2 linked regions of the Homo sapiens genome follow. The protein of the gene in region 2 interacts with the protein of the main gene of each other region in a pairwise test. Each region holds a gene or a part of one and is shown on either strand. Other genes may lie near its edges.

What was found. The genes of interacting proteins can lie anywhere in the genome.
Region 1: the proteins of BDKRB1 (region 2) and SLC25A28 interact in a two-hybrid assay, tested with the Homo sapiens proteins (one large-scale study listed by BioGRID and IntAct).

Annotation. Positions count from the first base shown.
Region 1 is NC_000010.11:99,613,940-99,617,439, forward strand, and holds part of SLC25A28 (mitoferrin-2), read right to left. Parts: intron 1,575-3,500; exon of another isoform or gene 1,514-1,574; intron 1-1,513. UniProt on the Homo sapiens protein: Mitochondrial iron transporter that mediates iron uptake. Probably required for heme synthesis of hemoproteins and Fe-S cluster assembly in non-erythroid cells.
Region 2 is NC_000014.9:96,254,885-96,259,009, reverse strand, and holds the start of BDKRB1 (B1 bradykinin receptor), read right to left. Parts: upstream 2,801-4,125; 5' UTR 2,710-2,800; intron 1-2,709. UniProt on the Homo sapiens protein: This is a receptor for bradykinin. Could be a factor in chronic pain and inflammation.

The sequences.
Region 1 (3,500 bases), on a different chromosome or scaffold from region 2:
GGAGAAGCGCAATGTCAGCAATGCCAACTTCTCGCCCCACCTCAACACACTGGGCAGACCTTCTACATGGAGCTGTGCCAATCTGTGAGAGGGATATCTGGCTTTCAGCTTATTTCCAATCTATAGCTGATCTTTCTTCTAAGCCTTGGACCTTTCTTTTTCTAGTCATCTATGACCCTAAGAATGGAACACCATTATTTTCCCTGAAAAAATAATCCCACCTATTGCTAAGTGTCCTGGTACTCCAAAATGATTCAGAGCCCCAGCAACAAATATCAAGCCTGTGTTTCAGAAGTTGCTTTTGTGCCTTAATACACTCAAGCTGACAGTTCTTTACAAATGGATTCTAAACTCCAGTATTTACTATCTATGACATACTTTATGCTGTATACCTAAAGAGTGCCCCTGGCCCTGCTTCATGACCACACACTGAGGGGCGGCTAATTTTTTTATACTTTTTCAGACTATCTGGCAATGGTGGCTGGGTCTACACAGAGTCTTGGCAGAAGCAGCATTCTTAATACATGCTTTTATTTCTTGGGAAAGAAAGTTTACCCTGAAACTGCAAAGGTGGGAGTGTCTAGCTAGAAACCAATCTAGTCTCCAATCCTGAAGGGCCCTTCCAGATTTCTAATTTAAACTGATTGAATCCCAAAATTGGCATTAGCAAATAAAATCAGTCTCAGTGAAACATAATCCTTGGAATCTCTCTAAAGGATTTGATGATTGGAATAAAAGCGTAGGGTAGACACTTTGTATGATGTTCTTGGACAAAGTTTTGTTGAAATTTGGGAAATTAATCTTATTCAAAACACCTCCCTAAATTAGACCTTTTCTGAAGAGTGTGTCTCCCCAGGAAAATTTCTCATCTACTGACCCAATTCAAGGTAAAGTAACATGGAAACTAATAGTTAATATAAAATCAATGTCTAAAAAGAAAAATCAATGTCTGGTGCCTGACACACAATAAGCACCTCTGATTTGTTTGCTAAATGAATGAATCTTTTGTCACATAACTGTATCAGCTACAATCACTGGTGAGCCAATGGAAGCAAGTGATGCCCAAGTACAGTTTAAATTTCTGCATCAATCTAATCACTAGATTCTATTTGGATTTAAAAGCTTGAACCTTCGGCCAGGCACGGTGGCTCACGTCTGTAATCCCAGCACTTTGAGAGGCCAAGGCGAGCAGATCACCTGAGGTCAGGAGTTCGAGACCAGCCTAGCCAACATGGTGAAACCCCGTCTCTATTAAAAATACAAAAAAATTAGCCGGGCATGGTGGTGTGCACCTGTAATCCCAGCTACTCAGGAGGCAGGAGAATCGCTTGAACCTGTGAGGCGGAGGTTGTAGTGAGCCTTCGCTGGTTTGAGCCACTGCACGGCAGCCTGGGCAACAAGAGCAAAACTCCATCTCAAAAAAAAAAAAAAAAAAAGCTTGAACCTTCCTCTTGGCCAACTGGAATCCAAGAGTAATACCTTTCCTCAAGAGCATGGGAGAAAAGAAACTAACCAGATGAACAGGTCCCGGTTAGCTGCAAGCAATCCACATTCCTCTGGTTATTTTCTCCTGCCTGCTACCAACAAAAAACCGGAAGCTTAAAAGGTTAGTTACTGGATGTTCAATCAGAAATACTCTACACAGTATCACTTATCACAATTTGACACATTCTTTCCTACTTCCCCCCACAAAACCTCATGTATTTCCAATAAAGGGTTTGTTTACTCATCTTTCACATCACACAAGGCATATAAAATCCATCAGAAGAGTTGTTCATAGAGACTACGGGTCATATGCTGGCTAGAGCTACTAATAAGCAAAGATAAATTGAGCCTCTTAGCTTATCGTGTTTCCATGCATTTATTCAAAACTGATCTTGTATAAGGGGAATGTTCAGCAATTGCATTGCTCTGCTGCAGTCAATGGTGTATTTGGCTACCAATTCTGAACGGTTTGGCTTCGGAGGCCTGGAACTCCTCACCCCCAAGAGAAAACCGGACTGTGGGAAGCTACTTTGAACATTCTATATACACATCTAAATCTAACTCAACAATTCTAACTCGATAAAAGTACACCCTTATGGAGAGGACCTGGGCATAAGCTATGCCAAATATAAAAATGAATATGGCTCCCCAAATTTGTGGGCCAATAAATCTGCCTTTTACAGAAAGATGAAATATCTAAGTAAGAATTTCTGAAAAACCTCAATGTGAAAAACTTCTACCTGGCTTTGGAGAAAAGCCAAACAACCCAGTAGAGAGGTAAGTGGTTTGGTAAAAGACAAGCCACATTTGAGTCAAAAAGCCTGAGTCTGAGCCTCAGCTTTGCTAGTTGTGTGATCTTGGGTATGTCACTTAACCTCTTTAAGCTTCAAAATTGTCATCTATAACATGAGGCCAAGAATGACTGGCTCACAGGGCTGTTGTGGGGATTAAAAGAGATAAGATATGTAAAAGCCATTGGTAATTTATAAGATGCTAGAAATACAAAGATTTTTATTGTATTCAAAATGATTCTATATTTGTTCATATCTAAGAATTTACAGATCATGGTAGCATTGCCTCCTGTATAAGTCATTTCACAAATATACATGGGCAACTAACTGTCCTTAGCCACCAATAAATCAGGGTTAATTTTGTATTTTTTGTTTTCCTTTTAAAGTTTCTCTGTGGCTATAATGATTTACATGTCCCACTATTAATCTGAAGGTCATATGTTCAGGGACAAGCTTTACTGTGAAATTCTGTGCCTTGCCTGGTTCTTGTAATCTGCTTTTGGGAAGCTATATGGAAGGCTTGAGAGTCTGATACACTGAGTTCAAATCATAACTGTGCTACTTAAACTGTGTGACCTTGGACAAGTTATATAACTTCCCTAAGCCTCCTTTCAACTGTAAAATAATGAAAATGGTTTCTACTTCATGAAGTTGCTTCACAGATTAAATGAATAAATGTATGTAAGGTACTTCAGATAGTGCTTGGCACACAAGATCACTGAATACTTATTACTAGATGCAAGAAAATCAAATAAGCTAATGTTTCCATTTCCTAATCTTTCACAGGTGAATATGTATAGATACCATTTACATCTGGAAATTGGAGATTTATCTCCCTCTGCTCTTCCCCTCTTTATTATATAAGTGGATATTTGCTTTACCACTTCAGAGCCAACAACAGCAGCTTGATGATAGGTGGGTACTTCGCCAGAGGATTTTGAGAAGGGTTCTGACTGTTTTGGGTTGCAGAATGTCCCCATAGATAAAGTCTGGCGCTTGCCTTTGAGGCCCAGAAAAGGAAACTGGGATTTATCTGGGCTCCCAAGCCTCTCCATTATAGCCATGGAAATAGCTGGTTGAATAACCATGATCCAGCAAGGCTACACTGACTTCTCATGGTCCCTCTCAAGGATATTTAAAGTCAACTTGACCCTGATAAGTAGCTGAGGATGGACAGGCCTGCATGTCAAAAGGCAATGTCAGCTTTCATTTGCAAACATTGTG
Region 2 (4,125 bases):
CATTTCAGCTTGTGGGAAGAATCTTTTTAATTGGATAAATTCATGTTCTGTATGAAATGAGATGAAATTGAGAAAGCCAATGATTTTTTTTTTTTTTGCAGTATCTGAATCTGACAAAACATTCAAAACTTATAAGTAGGTACAACTTATTTGAAAGGTTTAATCTGGTTAAAAAAAAATACGTGTGGGCTGGGCACGGTGTGGCTCATGCCTGTAATCCCAGCACTTTGGGAGGCTGAGGCAGGTGGATCACATGAGGTCAGGAGTTCAAGACCAACCTGGCCAACATGGTGAAACTTTGTCTCTACTGAAAACACAAAAATTAGCCGGGCATGGTGGCAGGCGCCTGTAATCCCAGCTACACAGGAGGCTGAGGCAGGAGAATTGCTTGAACCTGGGAAGCGGAGGTTGTGGCGAGCCAAGATCGCACCACTACATTCCAAACTAAGGCACAAAGACAGCACCTGTGAAAATATCTGGGCTAAAATATTTATGCAATTCCATATGCAAAGAATTGGACTTGAGAACAGCCTCTGCCTGGCAGAATTTGCTGAGAGCTTATCACTCAGAACCTGCACAGGGAACATTTTCTCAATATATTATGGTTCAAGAGAAGAGTCAATTGAAGGTACTAATTTAAATTTGTTAATTGTAAAATTTGTGGAAAAAAGATTTCAGGCAATTATATGGAAAAATTAAAAATAACAAGACCCCACTGAAGAAAATACATTCTTGTGAAAAATGCCAGTGACAGGGTATCAGTCAGGTACAAGAAACTGTAGCATGTGAATATACAACAAGAACAATTATTTTGCTTATCTTATTTTTAAATGTTCAGTTGATTAACATAAACATGTTTTCTTTTGCTTTAATATTCATAGGTGTATGCATATATATTTAAAGACTTTTTTGAAAATAGTTTTTATCTAGAACTACTTTATAACACCATCAATATAATATAACCATTTTGTTGGATTTTTTCCCCTTCCTTCCTTCCTTCCCTTCATTCCCTCCTTCTCTCCTTCCCTCCCTACCCTCCTTCCCTCCTTCCTTCCTTCCTTCCTCCATCCCTCCCTTCCTCCCTCCCTTCTTCCCTCCCTCCCATCCTGCTTTCCTTCCTTCCTTCCTTCCCTTCCTTCTTTCCTTCCTTCCTTCTTTCCTCTCTCTTTCTACCTGTAAATACTAATTTTTGGGGGAAATAATTTTTGACTATTGGGGTGCCCCGGCAGTGTGCACACACATGGCCTGACCATCCCTCTCCTAGCTATCTCTGATGATGGCCAGGAAGCTGAGGTCTATGGTGACAGAGGCTGGCAGGTGGGAATCTGTAGAATTCCCCGGCGATTGGTTGGGATTTCTCAGGGAGAAAGGAGGCGAGGTCCTGACCTGTGGTGGAGGGGCTGGGGCATTGAGAGTTTGAGAAGAGATGGGAGGGTGTTGAGCACTGATATGGTTTGGCTGTGTCCCCACCCAAATCTCATCTTGAGTTGTAGCTCCCATAATTCTCTCGTGTTGTGTGAGGGACTTGGTGGGAGATAATTGAATCATGGGGATGGAGAACAAAGCCAAGCCAATATCTTGACTTTAGCTCAGCGAGACTGAGTTTGAACTCCTGATCTCCAGAACTGTAAGATAATAACTTGCATCGTTTTAAGCCACTCACTTTGTGATAATTAATTATAGCAGCCTTAGGAAACCAGCACGGGGGTGAGGCTGCACCCTGCCCAGGAAGCCAGAGACGACCAGCTACGCAGGGACTTTAGCTCGAACCTGATTAGGTCAGTGGACACCGCCCCCATCCCCAGGACGGGGAGGTGGCTGGGGCCACTGCAGCCACAGCATGTGTCTGCTCACATGGGGCTTATTTTTAAAGGGATTGTCCTCACCTGCTGCTGTCTGTGTTTATAAAGTTGGCTAGAGAGGAGAAATCTTCCTTTGCCAGTTTTCAGCTTTAGCTCTGATATTTGCCTGGAACATAGTAGGTGCTCAATAAACAATATCTCTGGATATTGTTAGTAATATGTGACCCTATTTGAAGAACTCAGAAGGGGCACTGGGCAAGTCTACAAGAGATGGCAATTCTGTAATTCCTGTGTGGTATTTTCTGAATTCTGCACATTTTAACCTAGGCTATGAGACAGTGTGACTTTCTTCAACAAATTAGTTAATTCTTCAAATTAACTCCAATTTCAACAGCATGGTGATGTTAAAGGCATTGGAAATTCAGCCACAGATGTTAAAGACCATCAGCACGGTCACATAGTAAGATGCTACTTTCAAGCCACGAATAACCCAACCAGTTATTGGTCTTATGAAATCTTGTAAGCCATCCCAGAGAGACTAATTTAATTTTTATGATTCAGAATTTGCAGGCTGTAACTGGTCAGTCCATGCGAACTCTGGTGGCTGCATTCAGCCCTGACATGTTTCACCTGACTTTGATATAAGGAGCTACTGGAACCTTCCTACGAGTTCTAAAACCTTTCCCTCCTCCTCCTGTTCTGGAAAAGCAATTAAGACCCAAACTAGGCATGAAATAAAAGTCTCTTAAATTGATTTAGAATTATTTTTAAAAAGTACCCTCACAGAAGTGGAAAATTTTGCCAATAGGTAGGTGTAAAAGGAAGTTTTTTGTTTTTCTAAGAGACACAGATTTCCTCTCATATTGTACTCTCATAAAAGAAAAAAAAAAGGTGGTCATTTACTTACTCAGGCAGAAAATGAAGGCGTTCACAACTGTAGTTGGGTTTTCTGATAGTGAGAGCTGCTTTTGGAGGAGTTTTCTCTTCTGGGAAGTGCTGTGGAGATGTGGTTGCTTTAAATTATATAACCTCCGCTCCAGTGATGTCATTGTGGGGATTGCCGCAAAAGTGAGTCTTTCGGGACTCACTCCAAGTGGATTTGGAAGGAAAAATCCACTCTCATTTCACTTTGCACTTTAGGGATGATAAGAGATTATTCAGCTACCATCTCCCCCTTTACTTTGGTACCATCTGCAGAGGTCTGCAATCCTGCCCAAGACCTGTATGTTGGCAAACACGCCCTAAAAACATGTTTTGACATCGCCAACTTGCCCCAAGGCTCGCAAAGTGTCAGTGAACATTGAGGGATGGCTTTTGGCCCCTTCACTATTGGCTTCTGAATGTCTGGGGCTCTGCAGCAGCTTTTGTGGGAGCCACTTCGAATGGCCTCTTTTGAATTTTGGTCATGAAAGATACATCGCCAAGAATCCATCAGAGTGGACCCATCACACAAACAGAGAGCTAGGAAAACGTTTGACTCATGCAATGTTCAGAGTTGAGTAAGACCAGATACATTTTTTCCTAATCCTCCTTGGCGTCTCTCAAATTATGTCTGCATGGGTCAAGTTGAACTACTCAAGACCTCATGTTTCAGACAGTAAGATATTTTTGGCTTTGAGAATCAGGTGACAAGATTCTCCAACTGAAGGCCCCTTACCTGTCAACTTACAAATTAAGATCTTTCCAGGCCACCCCCTACACGTAGGAGAACTCATTCATGCCAGAATTCAGGACTTCGAGTCTGACTTCTGGAAAGGTGACCCTCCAAATGTTTGGAGCAGAAGGTGTCACCTCTGTCTTTAGAATCTTGCCTTTTGCTTGTGTTCCCTTTTTCTGCTAGTGACATCTCAGCGGGAGCCAACTGCACTTCAAGTTTTCCTGCTGTCTTCTCCTGTTGCTGAAGACCTTAAAACTGTGGAAGTAGGTGGAACAAATAGCATTCTGAGGCTCAGTAGCGGATGTACATTTCAGGGAAGAAGCTGGAATTTGCCTTAGAGGATAGGATGGTCCCCTCCTATCAGGAGAGACCTCCTGGGTGGGATTTTTAATAAAAAAAAATTGTCAACAGGCAAGCATCTTCCATTACTCCCGGGATAGATCTGAACCGGAGGAAGGCTCCAAATCTTAGCCTTTCCTGTTACTTAGTAATGTAGGCGGGGGTCTCTCCAGCCCGTGGCTGGCTTATTCTCCCTTCAGTATGAGTTTAGACTATACTGTTTCTGAGAAGCGTTTGTTCTTAGGAGATGTCTCCCTGTTTATTCACCCAGGAGTGCGTATAAGGCCAGCTCTGCCACAAAGAGCACGTGCAGGTCTCATCTCTGCT